Regions from separate parts of the Homo sapiens genome. Here region 2 is linked to region 1. A link means that fine-mapping ties the variant in region 1 to the expression of a gene that starts in the linked region. Tissue or cell type: whole blood. Region 1 holds a variant in brackets; the other region holds the start of a gene. All regions are shown on one strand. Distances are from middle to middle.

What was found. PIP is the estimated chance that this variant, and not a neighbour inherited with it, causes the effect.
Region 2: it holds the start of ITGAM, and the variant in region 1 is fine-mapped to the expression of ITGAM in whole blood (TOPMed, PIP above 0.99).

Annotation. Positions count from the first base shown.
Region 1 is chr16:31,329,120-31,337,223 of GRCh38, forward strand. ITGAM (integrin subunit alpha M) reads left to right here. Exons shown (of 30, transcript NM_000632.4): 24 at 109-184; 25 at 679-786; 26 at 962-1,045; 27 at 1,189-1,302; 28 at 1,385-1,486; 29 at 2,046-2,156; 30 at 2,517-3,758. The coding sequence ends at 2,588. Among named protein-coding and RNA genes, the nearest start is that of ITGAX, 22 kb to the right of the region's middle. RefSeq lists a silencer at 2,359-2,438. The variant G/C (reference allele first, on the strand shown) is at 3,230.
Region 2 is chr16:31,255,174-31,263,277 of GRCh38, forward strand. ITGAM (integrin subunit alpha M) reads left to right here and starts at 4,802. Exons shown (of 30, transcript NM_000632.4): 1 at 4,802-4,919; 2 at 6,519-6,624. The coding sequence starts at 4,892. RefSeq lists an enhancer at 4,559-4,658.

The DNA of each region.
Region 1 (8,104 bases):
ATACCCATTACCCATGTGCCTGTTCGCTCCTTACACACTTAGCCTGAGACACCCTCCCAGGGCACCCCTCATGTTTTGTCACCTCCTGTCCCTTTTTTCTCCCTTCAGCCATGGGGTCTCCACTAAATATCTCAACTTCACGGCCTCAGAGAATACCAGTCGGGTCATGCAGCATCAATATCAGGTGGGCAGCTGGGACGTCTGGGTCCTGAGAAGGAGGCTGGGGAGGAAAATCGATGGTAGAAAATGCAGAAACAGGGATGGGAAATGTGCGCAAGGCACCTGTGGTGTGCCAGGCTTGGTTCCACGCTGCTATCACTCAGTATGCACACATACACGCACGTATGTATGTGACATGCACGCACGTAGTTATCTTGTATTACCTTCGTAGCGACTCTGTGGGGCACTGTCATGATCCCCAGTTTACAGATGAAGAAACTGAGGCTCAGAGAGGTTTACAGAACAAGCTCGAGGTCTCCCACCGAGTAAGTGGGAGAGCTAGGACTGGAGACCAGGCCGTGTGGCACTGGAATGCGTATTACATGTACACTCTACTCTCTCAAACAGGAAGGGGCAGGACGCCCGGGCCTATGGCCTGCCCCGTGGGGAGGGGAGGCTGATTCTCCAGGCTGGTGGGGGAGGAAGGCCAGAGCCCTGACCCCGCCCTCCCCGGTGCAGGTCAGCAACCTGGGGCAGAGGAGCCTCCCCATCAGCCTGGTGTTCTTGGTGCCCGTCCGGCTGAACCAGACTGTCATATGGGACCGCCCCCAGGTCACCTTCTCCGAGGTGAGCGGAGCTCGGCCTGACTCCTGCACGGCCCTGCGCGTTCCTCTCACCTCTGTTAATGCTATTGGGTTTTAGAGCCGCTCCGCCCCTCTCCTGGACCCAGGCCATCTCACCTCCCGAGATGAGGCCCTGGCGCCTTCATCTCTGCCCCTTCTCAGTGCGTCTCTTTCCTCAGAACCTCTCGAGTACGTGCCACACCAAGGAGCGCTTGCCCTCTCACTCCGACTTTCTGGCTGAGCTTCGGAAGGCCCCCGTGGTGGTGAGAAGCTAAGTCAGCCCCAGGGCCACACAGAGACCCAGAGCGCTTCCCTGCTGGAACCTGTATGGTCTCTGAGCAAACGGGGAGGGGTGTTCTCTGCCTTCGGCTTCCTTACCCGTCCCCTCCCCTCCTGCGTTCCCCAGAACTGCTCCATCGCTGTCTGCCAGAGAATCCAGTGTGACATCCCGTTCTTTGGCATCCAGGAAGAATTCAATGCTACCCTCAAAGGCAACCTCTCGTTTGACTGGTACATCAAGGTGTGTGGGGTCCTGAGGCTTCGCCGGGCACAGGCGTGGTGCTCAGGGCCCAGGTGCAGTGCCCACCCGCTCTCTTCCACAGACCTCGCATAACCACCTCCTGATCGTGAGCACAGCTGAGATCTTGTTTAACGATTCCGTGTTCACCCTGCTGCCGGGACAGGGGGCGTTTGTGAGGTCCCAGGTACCTGTCTTGGGCGCTGAGGAACTATTGGAGGGAGAGGGGCTGCGCTTGTGGAGATTTCTGGGGGAGGAGAGAGAGACACAAAGAGAGAGGGAGAGAGAGAGACAGAGCGACAGAGAGACAGAGAGATACAGAGACGTAAGGAGAGAGACAGACAGAGACAGAGAGATAGAGGCAGAGGGAGAAACAGACACAGAGACAGACAAAGGAGAGAGAGATAGAGAGTCAGAGAGATAGAGATAGAGACAGAGACAGTGAGAGATGGAGATAGACAGAGAGATAGAGATAAAGAGAGAGATACAGAGCGCGACAGAGACAGAGACAGTGAGCCATGGAGATAGAGAGACAGAGAGAGGCAGAAAGCGATAGAGAGAGATAGAGGACAGAGAAACGGAGGAGGGAGAGGAGGGAGAAGAGGTGGGGGAGGAGGACTGAGGGCTGGGGTTCTGGGGGACATGAGGAGGGGTTCCCCACTTGATTCAGGGGTGCACACGGTGTGAATGGGGAACCCCCAGAAATCCAGAGTCGTCTCCCCTGACGCCCCTCCTTCCTCCCCCAGACGGAGACCAAAGTGGAGCCGTTCGAGGTCCCCAACCCCCTGCCGCTCATCGTGGGCAGCTCTGTCGGGGGACTGCTGCTCCTGGCCCTCATCACCGCCGCGCTGTACAAGGTGCTCCCCGCTGCTCCCCCACCCCCTCCCTTCATCCTCTCGGGCCTCGCGCTGCAGCTCCGTGCCTCGGTTTCCCCGGCGGGGCTGCCAGCTGTGTGACTGGGGCGAGTCTGGGAGCCTCTCTGCGCCTCAGTCTCTTAGGGAGGGTGGCCGGGTTCATGCGCGGGGCGCGCTGAGAACGAGTCGCCCTCCTTGTAGTTTCTGTTTTTCTCCAGGCCCCGACGCGGATGTCACTCCCCTCCCGCCCCGCCCTCCTGGGTCCCTTCTGTCTCTGCCGGCCCTCCCGCCCCCTCCCCCTGGTCTGCGGAGCCGCACGCTCCCTGGCTGCTGTCGCTCTCACTGCCCTCCTCTGCCCCGCAGCTCGGCTTCTTCAAGCGGCAATACAAGGACATGATGAGTGAAGGGGGTCCCCCGGGGGCCGAACCCCAGTAGCGGCTCCTTCCCGACAGAGCTGCCTCTCGGTGGCCAGCAGGACTCTGCCCAGACCACACGTAGCCCCCAGGCTGCTGGACACGTCGGACAGCGAAGTATCCCCGACAGGACGGGCTTGGGCTTCCATTTGTGTGTGTGCAAGTGTGTATGTGCGTGTGTGCAAGTGTCTGTGTGCAAGTGTGTGCACATGTGTGCGTGTGCGTGCATGTGCACTTGCACGCCCATGTGTGAGTGTGTGCAAGTATGTGAGTGTGTCCAAGTGTGTGTGCGTGTGTCCATGTGTGTGCAAGTGTGTGCATGTGTGCGAGTGTGTGCATGTGTGTGCTCAGGGGCGTGTGGCTCACGTGTGTGACTCAGATGTCTCTGGCGTGTGGGTAGGTGACGGCAGCGTAGCCTCTCCGGCAGAAGGGAACTGCCTGGGCTCCCTTGTGCGTGGGTGAAGCCGCTGCTGGGTTTTCCTCCGGGAGAGGGGACGGTCAATCCTGTGGGTGAAGACAGAGGGAAACACAGCAGCTTCTCTCCACTGAAAGAAGTGGGACTTCCCGTCGCCTGCGAGCCTGCGGCCTGCTGGAGCCTGCGCAGCTTGGATGGAGACTCCATGAGAAGCCGTGGGTGGAACCAGGAACCTCCTCCACACCAGC[G/C]CTGATGCCCAATAAAGATGCCCACTGAGGAATGATGAAGCTTCCTTTCTGGATTCATTTATTATTTCAATGTGACTTTAATTTTTTGGATGGATAAGCTTGTCTATGGTACAAAAATCACAAGGCATTCAAGTGTACAGTGAAAAGTCTCCCTTTCCAGATATTCAAGTCACCTCCTTAAAGGTAGTCAAGATTGTGTTTTGAGGTTTCCTTCAGACAGATTCCAGGCGATGTGCAAGTGTATGCACGTGTGCACACACACCACACATACACACACACAAGCTTTTTTACACAAATGGTAGCATACTTTATATTGGTCTGTATCTTGCTTTTTTTCACCAATATTTCTCAGACATCGGTTCATATTAAGACATAAATTACTTTTTCATTCTTTTATACCGCTGCATAGTATTCCATTGTGTGAGTGTACCATAATGTATTTAACCAGTCTTCTTTTGATATACTATTTTCATTCTCTTGTTATTGCATCAATGCTGAGTTAATAAATCAAATATATGTCATTTTTGCATATATGTAAGGATAATTTATAGGATATGTTCCTGGAAGTTTGGGTTCTCCCAGAAGCAAACCCAAGAATTTGGGTGAAACAAGCGTATTTAAGAGGTGGCAGGCCAGGCATGGTGGCTCACACCTGAAATCCCAGCATTTTGGGAGGTGAAGGTGTGAAGATTGCTTGAGCTCAGGAGTTCGAGACTAGCCTGGGCAACATAGTGAGAACCTGTGTCCACGAAAAATTAAAAAAATTTAGCCAGGCCTGGTGTTACATGCCTGTAGTCACAGCTACTCCGGAGGCTGATGCAGGAGGATTACTTGAGCCCAGAAGGTCTAGACTGCAGTGAGCCATGATCGCACCACTGCACTCCAGCCTGGGTGACAGAGTGAGATCCTGTCTCAAAAATAAACAAAATAATAAAATAAAGGTCGGGCACAGTGGCTCACGCCTCTGTAATCCCAGAACTTTGGGAGGCCGAGGCTGGTGGATCACCTGATCTCAGGAGTTTGAGACCAGCCTGTCGAACTTGGTGAAACCCCGTCTCTACTAAAAATACAAAAAAATTAGCCATGCATGGTGGCAGGCAACTGTAATCTCAGCTACTTGGGAGGCTGAGGAAGGAGAATTGCTTTAACCTGGGAGGTAGAGGTTGCAGTGAGATATGATTGCATCACTGCACTCCAGCCTGGGCGACAGAGCAGGACTCCATCTTAAAAAAAAAAAAATAAATAAAATAAAATAAAATAAAGAGATGGCTCCAGGAAATACCGAGGAAGGGAAGGCTGCCAATAACAGGTGTATCACCCACAGAGAAGCTGCTGTGAGTTCCTGGAGCTTCACCCCACTGGGCAGTTCTCGGAGGCAGTGCAGAACACGCACCTCAGTATCACCCCACCCAGGGGAGAAGGCTGGAGCGCATAGACACCGATTCCACTTAGCTATTGGATGAGGGCTGCTCTTGGTGGGGAGAGTGTGTTAATTTCCTACCACTTCTGGCCTGCCCTGAGTGTGAGGAGAGTGGGCTCTAGTGGCCAGAGAAAGTGATACCAGTGCTGCTGGCTGGATGTTTGACAGGTGAACACAGCCCCTGACACGGTGCCTTTGGTTCAGGTCAGGGCACCAGGAGCACTTGCTGCCAAGGTGTGTGCAGGTGACATTTTGGTGGCTGCTTCCTCAGAGGGAGGATGCCCAGTGCCTGTCCCTCATACTTTGCAAACACAGTAAACACTAGCCTGGCCTGAACATACATCCTCTCTAATCCTCACACCAGTCCTTGGTATTTACATGAATTTCACTTATGAGGAAACCTAGGCTTAGATAGATCATACCAGTTGCCTGAGGTCATACAGCTGGGAAGGAATGGAGCTAGGAGTTAATCCCAGCTCTGCCTAGGTCTAAAGCTTTTCTCTTTTACTGTCCTGACAGCCTCAGAGGAATGGCCCCAGAACAGGCATGAGGGAGTGTGGGGAGAGGGTGGCTGTTATTTAACTGTTATGATATTGGGTTAAAGCATATGAAATTGATGACATGTTTTTGGACAAAAATGTTTCTTTCTTTTCTTTCTTTCTTTCTCTTTCTCTCTTTTCTTTCTCTCTCTCTTTCTTTCTCCTTCTTTCTTTCTTTCTCCTTCTTTCTTTCTTTCCCTTCCTTCCTTCCTTCCTTTCCTTCCTTCCTTCCTTCCTTCCTTCCTTCCTCCTTCCTTCCTTCCTTCCTTCCTCCTTCCTTCCTTCCTTCCTTCCTTTCTTTTTTCTTTCTTTCTTTCCTTCCTTCCTTCCTTCCTTCCTTCCTTCCTTCCTTCCTTCCTTCCTTCTTTCTTTCTTTCTTTCTTTCTTTCTTTCTTTCTTTCTTTCTTTCTTTCTTTCTTTCTTTCTTTCTTTCTTTCTTTCTTTTTTTTCATGGAGTCTTGTTCTGTCGCCCAGACTGGAGTACAGTAGTGTGATCTCAGCTCACTACAACCTCTCCCTCCCGGGTTCAAGTGATTATCTTGCCTCAGCCTCCTGAGTAGCTGGGATTACAGGCGTGCACCACAATGTCTGGCTAATTTTTTTTTTTTGTATTTTTGGTAGAGATGGGGTTCCACCATGTTGGCCAGGCTGGTCTTGAACTCCTGACCTCAGGTGATCCATCTGCCTTGGCCTCCCGAAATGCTGGGATTACAGGTGTGAGTCACTGTGCCCAGCCAAAAAATGGTAATTTCATGATCTTCATTGAAATACAAGAAAATCATGGCTTAGAGGGACACTTGTTTCACATGTGGCAGGAGGAGAGAGGGCTTACTCCTTAGGGAGGTGAAGGAAGGGTCCCCAAGGGAGGTGACACCTGACTGAAGCAGGGCCAGAAGATCTCCAGGCAGAAGGGAGGGCAGGGGAGGCTGGGAGAGTGGGCAGGGCTTGGGCATGAGTGCTTTGTAAGCCAGAGTGAGTAGTTCCAATTTCACTCAAAGTGAAGTGAGATGCCCTCAAAAGGTGGCTAATGAGACAATGGCCCTTTGTATCTGTGGGGGTGACACAAAACACGGTCACCTTTAGACGGTTCTTTGCTATTTCCTCTCCTGACTTAAATAAAGTCTGTTAAGAATTTCTGTGTTTCCTTATGTTGAAAGATAAAAGTCCTCAATATCTGCAGAAGTCCTGAATTGCTCCGGGAACAGAGAGAGTTCTGTACCTTTAGTCGCCTGTCCTTTCACCCTCCATGTCTGTAGTCGCCTGTCCTTGCAGCCTCCATGCTGGTCCTTGTAGCCTTCGTACCTAGTTGCTTGTCCTGGCAGCCTCCATACCTGTAGTTGCCTGTCCTTGCAGCCTCCGTGCCTGTAGCCGCCAGTCTTTGCAGGGCAGTTAAAGTCCTGTGAACTCAGAGTTCACCTCCGCGTCTTCAAATGAGAAGCTTGTGTTGAATTCAGCCAGATAGGAGCTTTATGATGGGTTAGAAAAGTCAATCATTTCAAGCGACAGATTTCCCTAGCATGACCACAAAGTGACTAATAAACAGGACCATAAATCTGGTGATAAGTGGCCAAGTCCAGGAACGTCTGCTTGCTTTTATTTTTGGGGATTTCTCACTTCAGAATAAATGAATCCCTTCAGTATCCACTCTCCTTTTCCTACTTAGAGTAGAATCTTAATTTGGGCCACCATGGGAGATGGTTACAATTCTGACTCCCAGTGAATGGTGCTTCCCGGCCCTACACCCTTGCAGTGTGACATTGCTGTCCCTGACATCACATGGTGCGGCCTGTCTACCTCTTTGAATCTGGGCTGGTCCCGTGGTTTGCTTTGATTAATAGAATACAGTAGGAGTGTGGTCGTGTGAGTTCTGGAGCCTAGACCTTTAGGAGCACAGCAGATCCTGCCCTGCACCCCTCGGAACACTGAGGTCACCACGCCGTGATCCATATGGCCCACTGGAGAAAGAGTGGACTCATGGAGGAGACAGCGGAGGCCACTGCCACTGTGCATGCATGAGGCTGCTGTGATCCTTCCATCCAGCTGTCCAACACCTGCAGCCACTGGAGAGTCCCACAGAACTGCCTGGATTGTCACCTCATGCAACTGTGAGAAATAATCAATTACTGATGTCTCAGTCCTGCGTGGTGGTTTGTTACGCTGCAATGGATATTGCGTATAGCCCCTTAGTTATAGGGTTCGTCTCCCCACCTCCTGTGCAGCTGGTGTGGCTGCCTGGCGAGGTTCTGGCTGATGGGATGTGAGCAGCAGTGAAGCGAGCAACTTCGGAGCCAGGTCCTTTGAGGGAAGAAGTGTCGTTTCTTTTCACCACCTTCCCGCTGGCTGGAGTGTCAGCATCACGGTGCACAATTTTGGACCCTGAAGATGAGTTTGACATCGAAGAATGCAAGAGTGGAACAGAGGAGGCTGGGTCCCGCCTCTGCGGAGGCACCATGTCAGCCCTGGACTCCATATTCTCATGCCATTACAGGAGAGAGATGAGAACACTGGTCTTGTTGAAAACACTATCACTCAGAGCCTCCGATACAGCAGTTTATCTGTTTTGTTAATTGATATCACCACCTTCCCAAAGATTCTGTTCTCCCAATTGTGGTAAAGGCCGAAGTCGTCTTCTTCTTATTCTTCTTTTTCTTTTTTCAGACAGTGTCTCGCTCTGCTGCCAAAGCTGGAGTGCAGTGGCGTGATCACAGCTCACTGCAACCTTGAGCTCCTGGGCTCAAGTGATCTCCCACATCAGCCTCCCGAGTAGGTGGAACTACAGGCATGTGCCACCATGCCTGGCTGATTGTTTTATGATTTTTTTTTGTAGAGACGGGGTCTTGCTATGTTGCCCAAGCTGGTCTTGAATTCCTGGCCTCAGGTGATCCTTCCTTCTTGGCCTCTCAAAGCACTGGGATG
Region 2 (8,104 bases), 74 kb before region 1:
GAGTGCAGTAGTGTGATCATGGCTCACTGCAGCCTCCAACACTTGGGCTCAAAATGTCCAAGGGACATTTTGCGAAGTGCGTTTTCAGGGAGATAGTTTGATTTCCCACACCTGTTTGATACATATTAATGTTTAATTAATTAATTATTTATTTAATTAAAAAAATTTAAGAGACGGGGTCTTATTATGTTGCCCAGGCTAGAGTACAGTGTATGGTGGCATGATCATAGCTCACTGCAACCTCGACCCCTTGGGTGCAAGTGATCCTCCTGCCTCAGCTTCCTGAGTAGCTGGGACTACATGTGCATACCACCACACTAGATAATTAAAAAAAAATTTTTTTTAAGAGACAGAATCTTCCTATGTTGCCCAGGTTGGTCTTGAACTCCTGGGCTCAAGCGATCCTCCCACTCTGGACTCCCAAAGTGCTGGTATTACAGGCAGTGAGCCATTGTGCCTGGCATTAGCTCCTTCTTTTCCTCACTTTCCCACCAGTGTTTCCGGAATCACCTTCCAGATAAATTACTTACACTTGAAGCCTTGTCTCAGAGTCCACTTATAGGGGAAATCAAGCTAAGATTTTATCAAGAGTGGGGATGGGGGACAGGTAGGAGGGAACAGCCAACAGCTTATAGATATGTCCCCACCCACGGTCACCAGGTCAGGTGCACACTTGGTGGTGGCTCATTGAGAAAGCCTCTGCAGGTTGGACAGCCAGTCTGAGATCTTGCCTATGTTTTTACAGAGAGTGGACCCTTGGCCACTGTTCAGGGCAAGGAGGGGCCTCCACGTCTGAGTTCGAGCAGCCCCCATAGTGGCCAGAGTGTGAAAACTTTTCCCAAAGCAAACCCAGCTGATCTACTAAACTCCTCCCCGGGCACCCTGGTTGGTATCTTCTCATCTTGGGCTCATGACTTCGTTCGTCCTTTCCTCAGCTTCTTTACCTGCTAACAAATACAGGTAACCTGTTGTTTTAAATTATCTATTGGTATTTTTTATGATTATGAGTCTTTTTTTTGTATAAAGGTCTTTTTTTTTTTTCTCTTTGAGACATGGTCTTGCTCTGTTGCCCAGGCTGGAGTGCAGTGTTGAGGTCATAGCTCACTGTAGCCTCAAACTCCTGGGCTCAAGTGATCCTCTTGCCTTGGCCTCCCACAGCATTGGGATCACAGGCATGAGCCACTGCACCCAGCCTATATAAATATTTTAAGTACAAATGATATAGAAAAGAATATTAAAGTCATCTTGTAGCAGATTGAATACAACCACAAATTCCTCCCATTGGGAGGTGGGATCTGTGTCCCCTTTGCTTGAATGTGGATGAGCTCTGTGACTGCCTGATCAATGGAATGTGGTGCAGATGACTTGGCGCCAGTTTCCAGATCAAGACCTTAGTAGCCTGGAAATTTCTGCTTCCTGTCTGTTGGAACACTTGCTCTTGAAGTCCAGCCACCATGCTGCGAGAAGCCCAAGCCACATGGAGAGGGCACGTGGGGGTGCCCAGGTGACAGCCCCAACTGAGCTCCTAGCCCACGGCCAACTGCCAGCTGTGGGAGTGACCCATTTTGGGAGCCCAGCCCAACTGAGCTTTGGATTACTCTAGCCCTGGTTGTGATCCGACTGCAATCATGTGAGAGACCCCGCTGAGAACTGCTGAGGCCAGGAGATTCACAGATACGCGAGAGATTATAATATGCTGCTGTTTTTAACTATGAAGTTTTGGAGTAGCTCGCTCTGCAGCAATAGATACTGGAACATACCTGTAATCCTCCTATCTTGGAGATAACGACTATTAACATTTGGTTTTCCTGCATATATATATATATATATATATATATATATATATATATATATATATGATTTATTTTTGTATGTATGTACTTATTTATTTAATTTTAATTTTTTATTTTTTGAAACTGAGTCAAGCTCTATTGCCCAGGCTGGAGTGCAATGGTGCAATCTCAGCTCACTGCAACCTCCACCTCCCAGGTTCAAGTGATTCTCCTGCCTCAGCCTCCCAAGTAACTAGGATTACAGGTGCCTGCCACCACGCCTGGCTAATTGTTGTATTTTTAGTAGAGATGGGGTTTCACCATGTTGGCCAGGCTGGTCTTGAACTCCTAATCTCAGGTGATCCTCCCACCTCAGCCTCCCGAAGTGCTGGGATTACAGGCGTGCCTGTATATATTACATGCCCTGCCTATATATATTTTAGAGACAGGGTCTGGCTCTGTTTTCCAGGCTGGAGTGCAGTGGTGCAATCATATCTCACTGCAGCCTCAACCTCCTTGGCTCAAGCGATCCTCCCACCTCAGCCTGTTGAGTAGCTGGGACCACAGGTGTGCATCACTATGCCCAGCTAATTTTTAAACATTTTTTTGTAGAGTCAGGGTCTTGCTGTGTTGCCCAGGCTGGTCTTGAGTTCCTGAGCTCAAATGATCCCTCTGCCTTGGCCTCCCAATGTGCTGAGATTACAAGCAGGAGTCACCACACCTGGCTATATATAAAAATTATAAACAGATAATTTTTAACCAAATGTACATAATTTTAATTGCTTTTTTTTTTTTCAGCCAGCAAGCATTTTTTTCCATCTAGTTATCGGGAAAGTAGAACTAGAGGCAAAAGAAAATGTGTTGAATGGTGAAACCCTGTCTCTACTGAAAATACAAAAAATTAGCCAGGCGTGGTGGCAAGCACCTGTATTCTCAGCTACTCGGGAGGCTGAGGCAGGAGAATCACTTGAACTCGGGAGGCAGAGGTTGCAGTGAGCTGAGATCACGCCACTGCACTCCAGCCTGGGCGACAGAGGGAGACTCCGTTTCACAAAAAAAAAAAAAAAAAAAAAAAGAAAATGTGTTGAGAAAGAGTGAAAAAAATCATTGGCTTGAGAATCACATTGGCGGTCACATAAAGGTGAGGTTTGTGTTCCATGTATGTGTGGAAGGATACCTATTTTCCTGTGCCTTTGAAAACAGAATTAAAAGTGACAGACACAGGGGAGGGTAAGGATATATCACAGAGTGAAGTATCATTGAACCATTCCTCTGTTGAATATTCAGGTTTTTTTAGCTTTTCATATTAACAATAATGCTGCAATGAACAAGCTTGCAAATATATATATATATATATATTTTTTTTTTTTTAGAGATAAGAGTCTTGCTCTGTCGCCTAGGCTGGAGTGCAGTGGCACAATCTCTGCTCACTGCAACCTCCGCCTCCAGGGTTCAAGTGATTCTGCTGCCTCAGCCTCCCAGGTGGGATTACAGGTGCCTGCCACCACGCCTGGCTAATTTTTTTGTCTTTTTAGTAAAGATGAGGTTTCACCATGTTGGGCAGGCTGGTTTCAATTGCTGACCTCAAGTGAGCCACCCCGCCTCAGCCTCCCAAAATGCTAGGATTACAGGCATGAGCCACCGCACCCAGCCAAGTTTGTACATATATTTTTGACTACACTTCTTAACTATTCTTAGGATAAATTACTAGAAGTGAAAATTCTTGGGTGAAGAGCTTGAGGCCTTTACACACACACACACACACACACACAAAAATAGGCTGGATGCAGTGGCTCACACCTGTAATCTCAGCAGTTTGGGAGGCTGAGGAAGGAGGATCACTTGAGTCCAGGAGGTTGAGAATAGCCTGAACAACATAGCAAGATCTTGTCTCTACAAAAAATTTAAAAAAAATTAGCTGGCCATGGCAGCATGTGCCTGTAGTACCAGCTACTCGGAAGGCTGAGGTAGGAGGATCGCTTGAGCCCAGGAGGTTGATTGAAGCTGCAGTGAGCTGTGATTACACCACTGCACTCCAGCCTGGGCAACAGAGCTAGACTCTGTCTCTAAAAAAAGCACAAAATAATATTTAAAAAGCACCAGGTATGCCTGTACTTGAGTTGTCTTTGTTGATGGCTACAAATGAGGACAGCTCTGGCTGAAGGGCGCTTCCATTTCCATGGGCTGAAGGAGGGACATTTTGCAAAGTGTGTTTTCAGGAAGACACAGAGTTTTACCTCCTACACTTGTTTGATCTGTATTAATGTTTGCTTATTTATTTATTTAATTTTTTTTTTGAGACAGAGTCTCACTCTGTCACCTGGGCTGGAGTGCAGTGGCATTATTGAGGCTCATTGCAGTCTCAGACTCCTGAGCTCAAACAATCCTCCTGCCTCAGCCTCTGGAGTAGCTAGGACTACAGGCATGTGCCACCATGCCTGGCTAATTTTTTAAATGTATTTTTTTGTAGAGTCGGGGTCTCCCTATGTTGCCCAGGCTGGAGTGCAGTGGTGTGATCCTAGCTCACTGCAGCCTGGACCTCGGGCTCAAGTAATTCTCACACCTCAGCCTGTCCAGTAGCAGGGGCTACAGGCGCGCACCACCATGCCCAGCTAATTAAAAATATTTTTTTGTAGAGACAGGGTCTCTCTATGTTGCCCAGGCTGGTTTCAAACTCCCAGGCTCAAGCAATCCTCCTGCCTTGGCCTCCCAAAGTGCTGGCATTACAGGCGTGAGCCACTGCGCCTGGCCCGTATTAATGTTTAGAACACGAATTCCAGGAGGCAGGCTAAGTCTGTTCAGCTTGTTCATATGCTTGGGCCAACCCAAGAAACAAGTGGGTGACAAATGGCACCTTTTGGATAGTGGTATTGACTTTGAAAGTTTGGGTCAGGAAGCTGGGGAGGAAGGGTGGGCAGGCTGTGGGCAGTCCTGGGCGGAAGACCAGGCAGGGCTATGTGCTCACTGAGCCTCCGCCCTCTTCCTTTGAATCTCTGATAGACTTCTGCCTCCTACTTCTCCTTTTCTGCCCTTCTTTGCTTTGGTGGCTTCCTTGTGGTTCCTCAGTGGTGCCTGCAACCCCTGGTTCACCTCCTTCCAGGTTCTGGCTCCTTCCAGCCATGGCTCTCAGAGTCCTTCTGTTAACAGGTGCATGGGGGTGGGGTGGGGGACTCTGGGTGGGGAGGAGGGTAACTTTTGGGTCTGTCATAAATAGAGGGCCCAGAATATGTAGGAGTCAGTCTGGGGAGAGGCAAAGGGGATTTGGGGAAGGAGAAAGGGTTCAAGAAGAAGCAGGGAGAACAGCTAGACCCAGACAGGCTGGCCAGGGAAGCCTGGATGAATGACCACATTCATGGACTGTGCAAGGCTGCTTGCCGGTCCCCTTGCTTCACACATGAGGAGACGGAGGCCCAGGGAGGAGAAGTGACATGGCTCAGGGTGCGCAGCAGGTGTGAGACCCCTTTCCTGAGTGCTTCCTCCTGGATCCCCTCTCACCATCTCCACTTTGCCTCCGGTTCTATTTTCCAAGGTCCCGGGTGCAAATGTTTGTTGAATGACTGATGAATGAAAATGATTTGAGTTTGTTACCTTTTATGCTTATATGTTGTGGAAAATGAAATTCTCCTCAAAAGGGAAGGAAATACTTGAGAGCTGCATAGGAAGGAAATTATCTAATTAAGAATGTATAGAAACTTCACTGTTGGGCAAATCATCGTTGTGACACCGGGGGAAGAAGCCATTTAGGTGCTCAGAAGGGAGGCTGGAATTCAGAGCAGGACTGGACGTGCCCCACGACGGTGGTTCTTAGGTCAGGAGTCAGCAAACAGTGGCCTGGGGGCCCGATATGGCCCACGACCTGTTTTTGCACAACCTGCCAGCTAGAGATTGAAGATGAACACTGATAATCGATTTGATGATAGGGAGCACCACCCCCAAAGAATTCTATTTGTCTCATTTGTAAACCCGTATTACAAACAAATTGTACTCAATCATTATGTTTGAAATTTCCCTAATGACAAATTTGTGGAAAAGTATTTTCTGTCTTGTTATATAAGTACTTGTACAACATATTCTATCAGCCTCTTGGTCTGCAAAACCTAAAATTTACTATCTGGCTGTTTACAGAATAAGTGTGCTAATCCCCGCCCCAGGCTAACAGAGCTGGACCTGGGAGGCAGACATCTGGATGCTGGGTTAGTTAGGGTGACCGAATGGATGGGAAAGGGAATGGAGCAGGAAGACATGCTGCTATCTTTTTTTTTTTTTTTTTTTTTTGATACAGGGTCTTTCTCTGTTGCCCAGGCTGTAGTGCAGTGGCATGATCATGGTTCACTGCAGCCTTGACCTCCTGGGTTCAAGCAATCCTCCCACCTCAGCCTCCTGAGTACCACTACACCCGGCTAATTTTTTATTTTTTGTAGAGATGGGGTCTCACTGTGTTGCCTAGGCTGGTCTTAAACTCCTGAGCCCAGGTGATCCTCCCACGTCAGCCTCTTAAATTATTGGGATAACAGGCCTGAGCCACCACACCCAGCCATTGCTTTCTTTTAAATTATTATTAGTTTTTGTTTTTTTTTTGTATTTAATTTTGAGATAGGATCTCTCTCTGTTGCTCAGGCTGGAGTGCAGTGGCACAATCAGGGCTCAAGTGATCCTCCTGCCTCAGCCCTCCAAAGTGCTAGGACTACAGCCCCTAACTGGCATGCTACTTTCCTCTGCTTGATCCTTCCCCCATTCTCCCTTTAGCCTTGACCTTATGTCATGGGTTCAACTTGGACACTGAAAACGCAATGACCTTCCAAGAGAACGCAAGGGGCTTCGGGCAGAGCGTGGTCCAGCTTCAGGGATCCAGGTGAGACCCTTAGATGGAGCCCCCTTTCTCAGTGCTTTCTCTCCAAGACTTACATACCTGAAAAAAATCAGCGATTTGAGTGATCTTTTTCAACAGATAAATCAATTCAAAATATACAACAAATTCATCTTTTGAATTTACAGTATTCTAAATTCAAAAGATGCAAAAGGGTGTAAGAGTAAAAATCTCTTCCTTACTCCCTTCCCCTAGTTCCCTTCCCAGGAGGGACCTCACAAATGGTTTCCTGGGTGTTCCTTCGGGGAGACTCTGTGTGTGCATAACACATACACGTTCCCTCCCTCAGCCAACACACCATGTGTAGTATACATTGTACTGAAATTAAGGCCTGCCTGCAGGCTGCCGCCTATTTTTGTGAATGAATTTTATTGAAAACAACTCCGTCCACTTGTCTCTTACTGTTTATTGCCCTTCCCTCCCTTCCTCCCTTCCTTCCTTCCTTCCTTCTTTCCTTCCTTCCTTCCTCCCTCTCTCATTCCCTGCTTCCCTCTTTCCCTCCTTCCCTCCCTTCCCTCCCTTCCATCCTTCCTTCCTTCCTTCCTTCCTTCCTTCCTTCCTTCCTTCCTTCCTTCCTTCCTTCCTTCCTTCATTTCTTTCTTTCCTTTCTGACATGGTCTTGTTCTGTCATTCAGCCTGGAGTGCACAGGTGAAATCATAGCTCACTGTAGACTCAAACTCCTGGGCTCAAGCAATCCTCCCACCTTAGCCTCCTGAGTAGCTGGGACTACAGGCATGTGCCACCACACCTGGCTAATTTTTTGATTTTTTTTGTATAGACGAGGTCTCACTCTGTTGCCCAATCTGGTCTCAAACTCCTGGCCTCAAGTCATCCTCTTGCTTGGGCCTCCCAACTTGCTGGGATGATAGGTGTAAACCACTGTGCCTGGCTATGGCCACTTTTGAGCTGTAATGGCAGAATTCAGGAGCTGTGATAGAGATTGTATGGACCCTGAAGCCTAAAACATTTACCTTTACAGAAACAGTAATTGTGGAGGTGATAGTACCTTTCCAGAAGAAGGGGGCTGGTCTCTGCTCTTTGCTTTATCTCCCATAATACAGCCCAGTGATTTGAGTCCATTAATCCCATGTTATGCTTGCATTGCATGCCATAATTGGGAGATGCTATAATTTATTTTATTTTATTTTTTTAGAGACTCCCTCTGTCGCCCAGGCTGGAGTGCAGTGGCATGATCTTGGCTCACTGCGACTTCTGCCTCCTGGGTTCAATCGATTCTCCTGCCTCAGCCTCCTGAGTAGCTTGGATTGCAGGTGCCTGCCACCACGCCTGGCTAATTTTTGTATTTTTGTAGAGACAGGGTTTCACCATGTTGGCCAGGTTGGTCTTGAACTCCTGAGCTCAGGTGATCCACCTGCCTCGGCCTCCCAAAGTGCTGGGATTACAGGCTTGAGCCACCGTGCCTGGCTTGTAATCTCCTTTTACATTACATTAGATCTCTTGTTA